Linked DNA regions of Homo sapiens. The protein of the gene in region 1 purifies or fractionates together with the protein of each later gene. This does not show direct contact. Each region holds a gene or a part of one and is shown in the gene's direction. Other genes may lie near its edges.

Region 1 (3,500 bases):
AAACAGGAATAAGAAGCCTACATTTTAGTCAATGGAAGGTTCACGTGAATAGAGGGTGGAAGCCCTTTGGAAACACTGTTGTTCTGGACAAACACAGGGTCCTGGTCTCCACTCTGGGCTCTGGGTCTCAATGCCTTTCTAACCTTGCCCACTGGTGCCCACTGCCACCTGTGCTGCCAGGAGCCATCCTGCATTTCCCAGGGTGGTATGAGAGCGTGTCACCTCCATGTAATAGGCTGAGACACTCGGGCACTTGGAGAATCTCGGTGATCCTAATCGTAAGCTTGTTAGCAGGCTGCAGTCAGCAGAATGATCACATGTTCATTACATTTATTACCAGAAAGGCTCTTTACTGGCCGCCCTAGAAGGACGGATGGGACCTGCTGTGCCCGGCTGGCACGCCTTCCATAAGGAGTGACCCGGCTGCTTTTCGTGCATCTGTGGTGTTCCTATGAGTCGCTGGAGCTGGAGACCGAGCTGAGGTGGATGAGGCCTAGGGGGCTGGGGGCTCCATCACAACTTACACATGCCTACCCGCCTTCCTGCCCCAGAGATCTGCTGCTCAGCCATAGAAATGGGGATTCCATGGGGGAATGTGGAAATGGGGGCTACTTAAGGAGGGCAGGATAGGCAGGCTAGCTTTCACCCCTGGGTGGGGATTTTTGGGAAATGGAGCCAGTACTCTGCAGTAGTTAAAACACGCCAGGCAGGCTGTGTCGTGGCTCACACCTGTAATCCCAGCACTTTGGGAGGCCAAGATGCGAGGATCGTTTGAGGCCAGGAATTTGAGACCAGCGTGGACAACATATAGGGAGACACTGTCTCTATAAAAAAATTAAAATTAGCCAGGTATGGTGGTGTACGCACTTGTAGGCCCTGCTTTTCTGGAGGGGCTGAGGTACAAGGATCGCTTGAGCCCAGAAGGTAGGGCCTGCCATCAACCATGGTTGCACCAGTGTACTCCAGCCTGGGTGGCAGAGCAAGACCCTGTCTCAGCAACAGAAAAGCCAGGCAGGGCATGGTGCACTTTCTGTGCCCTCTCTGCATTCCTCGTCCTAGCACAGTGAACTAGGTAAGGGGCCCATTTCACAGGCAGAAAAGCTGAGTCCAAGGAGAAAATGACAACAGAAGGAAGGCACAGGAGGCTTCCTGGGGTCATTGAGGAAGAGTCTGTGAGAAAAACACAAATGACCAATTCTGTTAGGTGACCTTCCAGAAATTCCCTGGGCCAGGTGTCGCCCCACATGTGTTACTGTATGCAGTCCTGCTGACTTCTTTCTAAAAGGTCAGCAAGACACACACACAAAAAAATGCCACAAGCAAAAGTCAAGATACTTGGAGTCAGTAAGAGAGAGAAAAGTTGCCGGGAGCTAGGCTCAGGTCATTCCTCCCCTGAAGTGGAACGTGGTAGGGGCATGTGAGACTGGCTGTCAGTACAGCCCTGGGGGTACCTGGCCCCACAGGCTGCAGTAGGGAGCTGGGCCGGGGCTACCCTATGCAGAGGCAGGCCCTGGGGTTGAGCAGCAAGAGCACCTCTTTCCAGGCTTTTGAACCAATCTAGGCAGTTACTTCAACCAGGCAAGTCCGTCATGACCTGAACTCATTCTCCATCCCCAAAAGTGGCCCCATAGGGCCTGGAGGATGAGCACAGTCCCCTGAGGGCACCTGGGTCTTGAGGCCGGAGCGCCACTGCCCTGCCTCCCTCTGTCCAGCACAGTGTTTCTGGTGACATCCCACTGTCACGGGTGCAGCCTCCTTATTGGAAGGCGCCTAAAGATTCAGTAGGTGATGTGGGCAGTTGTCTCGGCAGTCACGAATGGTCAGCCGTTTTTATGGGTCCTCCCCATGGACGACGGGAGAGGGGAGAGGCCACCAGGCTGCGCATTACCTGGGTCCCCACCCTCTTCCTCCTCTCCAGCTCTCCTGACAGTTCTCTCCTGCCTGCTCCTGAGGGCCAATGAGAGGCAGTAAAACCGAGATCCGGATCTAAGGCGTTCCATCTGCTCCAATTCGTTAAGGAAAAGTAGATGACCACAAGCATTGGTGTGTCAGCCATGATCAGTAACACGCTACCTAGGAACCCCTGCCCCATCACTGACTGGGACACCTGGTGTGTGTTGATAGTGCAGGAAGGGGGCTCAGGAGACTGGCATGCACCCATGCCGGCACCTGCATAGCTTGGCCCCGGTGCCAGGTTGACCAGTGGACTTGGGGTGGGGCGGGGAGGGGGGGTGGCAGCAGAGGAACCATCTGTAACCCAGAGGTGACAGTCTTCGTCCCCTATCTCCCCCTGCTCCTGCACCACCCCACTCTCCCTGCAGAAGAGCAAATGGGCTTTTTCAGGAGCCGTGGATGACAGAGAGGCATTCTTCTGTGCTCCCTGCAAGGACACAGCACCACAGGGCCACCATCTAAAGACTGAACCTGCCCATGGAACTGGCCAGGACTCTGTGACACGGAAAGTGGCTGCCTGAGTCCGTCGTCCCCTTCTCCCTCCCACCATTCCTTCCCAGGCCCTAGAGGAGGTGCTGGGTCTTGAGGTAGCAACAGGGACCCAGGTGGAATCCAGAAGCAGAGAGAATCTCCAGGAGATCCCAAGAATCCATAGTTCATTTTCTCATTCATTCATTCATTCATTCATTAATTGCACACAGTGCACAAAGCCCCGAGATGAGGGAGAGACACAGACAGTCCTGGGTAGTGGAAGTGGCTTGGAGAACAGAAGGGTTTTTGTAATGCAGCGTCATCAGCGCTGTCGGGCATTGCGATGCCACGCGAACATAGTATGTGGAGCAGCTTCTGCCTTCAAGAAGCGGGCAGGTTTCATAGAGGTGGGGACATTTGGTCTGGGTCCTCAGAGATGGATAGGAGTTCCTGCGATGGAAAAGAGGAAAGGACATTCCTTGGAGATCGTGTGCAAGGGAATGGAACATTCGGGAAACAGGTAAAAATGAACAACACCAAAGAAAATAGTGCGCAGAGGGGAAGGAAAGGCTGAAAAGGTAGAAGATGGTGAGGGAGACGATGCTGAGGGGTGAATCAGGGAGAAGGGCCTGGGGTGGAGCGGGAATGGGGAGAAGGCCCGGGGTGGAGTGGGATGGAGAGAAGGACCCGGAATGGAATAGGATCGGGGAGAAGGGCCTGGGGTGGAGCAGGAATGGGGAGAAGGCCCGGGGTGGAGTGGGACGGGAAGAAGGACTCGGGATGGAATAGGATCGGGGAGAAGGGCCTGGGGTGGAGTGGGATGGGGAGAAGGACTCGGGATAGAGTGGGATTCGGGAGAAGGGCCTGGGGTGGAGAGGGACAGGGAGAAGGGGCCAGGGTGGAGTGGGATCAGGGAGAAGGGTCTGCGGCGGAGCTAAACTGGACGGGGAGAAGGGCCCGGGGTGGGTTGGATCGGAGAGAAAGGCCTGGGGTGTTCTGATTCGGGGCCAGGGAGAGGCCCCCTCCTGGGTTAGGGGAGGTGCTGGGGCAGGCCCAGATCTCCCAGGCTCCCTGGT
Region 2 (3,174 bases), on another chromosome or scaffold:
ATAGTGTTCCTTTCACTGCAGCTGATCCGGATTACCAAGAAGCATATCAAGAGTTACTTGAAAAAGAGGACTTTTTTTCTGGATTATGAAGAAAATGGAACAGATTTTTCAGGGACTGGTGATCCACACTTGGATGATATTAATGATGAGTTGGACCCAGAGATCCAGAGATAGAGGAAGCTTATGAAAAGTTTTGTTTGGAATCAGAGCGTAAGCGAAAACAGTCAAGTTAAATTTCAGTATATCATGTTTATAAAGCAGTTTAGTTATGGTGATTTAGCAGAATACAAAGCCAGAAAATGTGTCACACTTATACCAAATTAAGGATGTTGAGTTATATTACTAATGTATGCAACTTTAATTTTGTTTAACGCTATCTGCCAAAATAAATTTTATTCCCTCTGACTTAAAAAACAAAACAAAACAGTGATGCTGTTTTTTTTTTTTTCCCTTGTCCCCACAGTGAGCGTCACCCTGGACCCACAGTCGGCCAGTGGGTACCTGCAGCTGTCAGAGGACTGGAAGTGCGTGACCTACACCAGCCTGTACAAGAGTGCCTACCTGCACCCCCAGCAGTTTGACTGTGAGCCTGGGGTGCTAGGCAGCAAGGGCTTCACCTGGGGCAAGGTCTACTGGGAAGTGGAAGTGGAGAGGGAGGGCTGGTCTGAGGATGAAGAAGAGGGGGATGAGGAGGAAGAGGGAGAAGAGGAGGAGGAGGAAGAGGAGGCCGGCTATGGGGATGGATATGACGACTGGGAAACGGACGAAGATGAGGAATCGTTGGGCGATGAAGAGGAAGAAGAGGAGGAGGAAGAGGAGGAAGTTCTGGAAAGCTGCATGGTGGGGGTGGCTAGAGACTCTGTGAAGAGGAAGGGAGACCTCTCCCTGCGGCCAGAGGATGGCGTGTGGGCGCTGCGCCTCTCCTCCTCCGGCATCTGGGCCAACACCAGCCCCGAGGCTGAGCTTTTCCCAGCACTGCGGCCCCGGAGAGTGGGCATCGCCCTGGATTATGAAGGGGGCACCGTGACTTTCACCAACGCAGAGTCACAGGAACTCATCTACACCTTCACTGCCACCTTCACCCGGCGCCTGGTCCCCTTCCTGTGGCTCAAGTGGCCAGGAACACGCCTCCTGCTAAGACCCTGAGCCCTGACATCTGCCCCCAGCCCCAACCCTCAGATGCTTCACTTCTTTGGAATTCCAGGACTCTCAATGGGGGGACGGGATGCCTGGCCTAAGCACCTGGAGCAGGGGACCCCATATCCACTGGTAGCCACCTCCCCATTGCTGTGGCCCCCTGAAATCTCACTCAGTGCTGTTGCTCCATCTACTGCCCTAATGGGGCTCTTTTCCCACCTCCTGCTGGTTTCCCGAGGGAACTTCTGACCCTGGAGTCCATGAGGGCTCCTTTCCTTTTTGACCACGACCTTGGCCCCAGCTCTGCACTCTCTGGAATAAGGGCCCGATGCAGCATTTTCTTGCCCAGTGTGGCAAGACCTCAGAAAAACCAGTCAATTACGCCTAAGATCATTTTGCTGTCCTTAAACCCCCCAGGTTCCTTCTTGCACAAATCCACTCTGCTGCCCACCTTCCCTGGCATTTTAAACAGACCTACCCCACCCCAACTCAGAGTTAAGCATACATGGCAATGCTGAAAATAAACAAAATCCACTGAGGCTTCCCAGGCCATTTAAAGCCTGGAGTACCAGCGCATATCATCTCATGGGGTCCAGAGTGGAGTCCAGGCTTCTCTGAAACCAGGGCTGAGCATATTTCCATAGCCAAGGAGGTGGGACTCCCTGGAGCTATCTGTGGTCTTAGGGAAGGATCCAGACATACACGGCTTTGGGGTACAAGCTGTGATCACTGATCAATAAATTATCTCTAGATTGGTCCTTGTGAGGGGAGTTTTAAGAATCCAGAACATCTTGCTCTTGATCAGCACATCCAAAAACACCAAGACAAACATCCAGTGGAGCAGAACCTCTCCTGCCTCGGGAGTTCTGACCGGGTTCCCCAGCAGGGTGTTAAGCCTCTGTCTCTGGCCCTACCAGCATCCAGGTTCCACTTTCCTAGGAGAGAGTGGAGATGGGAAGACAGGGAAAGGAAGGCAGCAGGAGGCCACAAGCCCACCAGGTCTTCATGTCAAGAGAGGGAGTAACATGTCTTCTCATTGCCCACGGACCCAACCTCTGTCCAGGTGCCCCTCATCATCACAGTTTAACACAAGCTCCCCTGCTCCAGCCAAATTGATCTCCCAGTCTTGTCCTTACCCATTCCAAGTGCTCTGCCAGCCCCTGTTCATCCAAGTTTTAAGTCCTCCACCCTGTTCTAAGAGACTGTTCCAACGGCTCTGGGCCTCAGTGGTCACTTGACCACCATTGTCTCAGAGCTGCCCACTTTGTGTGTGTCACATGCTGCCTGAGTCACATGTACATCTTATTTCTGCCTCTAGTTTTGTAAGCTCCTGGAGGGCGGATAACATCTTATACTACTCTTGTATTCTCATGGCACCTAGTGCAGTGCTGGGCACAGAGTAGGTGCTCAATAAAGACTTGTTGAATGAACAGCCTGGAGATCTGTATTTGTAGGTCTATATCTATATTATATCTCAAATGCCACCAGACCTCAGTCTGGCTACAGAGAAATTCCACTGATAGCAGTAGCCGAAGGTTTTCCTTCTGTGCCTTCTGTAACAGTGTAACTTTGCTTTCTGTTCTCTGCACACATGCTGTCATTTCTGGAAGTCCCTCAAAAAGAGCCTACTGCGGAACACAGACGAGTTGTTGCGTGGCTCCACCTTTTTATTCCTCCTGCAGTGGTGCCCTTGAGCTGAGGTCCAGCGTTTTGGAGCAAGTGATGACTCTCCCTGAGAAGGGAGACCTCCAGTATAGCACACCCAAAAATTCTTCCTTGGAAAATAAGCACTGCCTCAGAGGAAATAGAATGTGCAGAGATTCAGCCTTGCATCCTAACACAGTCAACTGTTTTTCTTGTCCTTTCTGATTTTTTTTTTTTTTTTTTTTTTTTTTTTTTTTTTTTTTTTTTTTTTTGAGATGGAGTCTCACTCTGTCTCCCAGTTTGGAGTGCAGTGGCGCCATCTCGGCTCACTGCAAGCTCTGCCTCCCGGGTTCACGCCATTCTCCTGCCTCAGCCTCCCGAGTAGCTGGAACT

The links. The genes of interacting proteins can lie anywhere in the genome.
Region 2: the proteins of MSRA (region 1) and TRIM26 purify together in Homo sapiens (affinity purification with mass spectrometry; one large-scale study listed by BioGRID and IntAct). This does not show direct contact.

The regions. Positions count from the first base shown.
Region 1 is NC_000008.11:10,421,292-10,424,791, forward strand, and holds part of MSRA (mitochondrial peptide methionine sulfoxide reductase isoform a precursor), read left to right. Parts: intron 1-3,500. UniProt on the Homo sapiens protein: Has an important function as a repair enzyme for proteins that have been inactivated by oxidation. Catalyzes the reversible oxidation-reduction of methionine sulfoxide in proteins to methionine.
Region 2 is NC_000006.12:30,183,848-30,187,021, reverse strand, and holds the end of TRIM26 (tripartite motif-containing protein 26), read left to right. Parts: intron 1-463; coding exon 464-1,146; 3' UTR 1,147-2,567; downstream 2,568-3,174.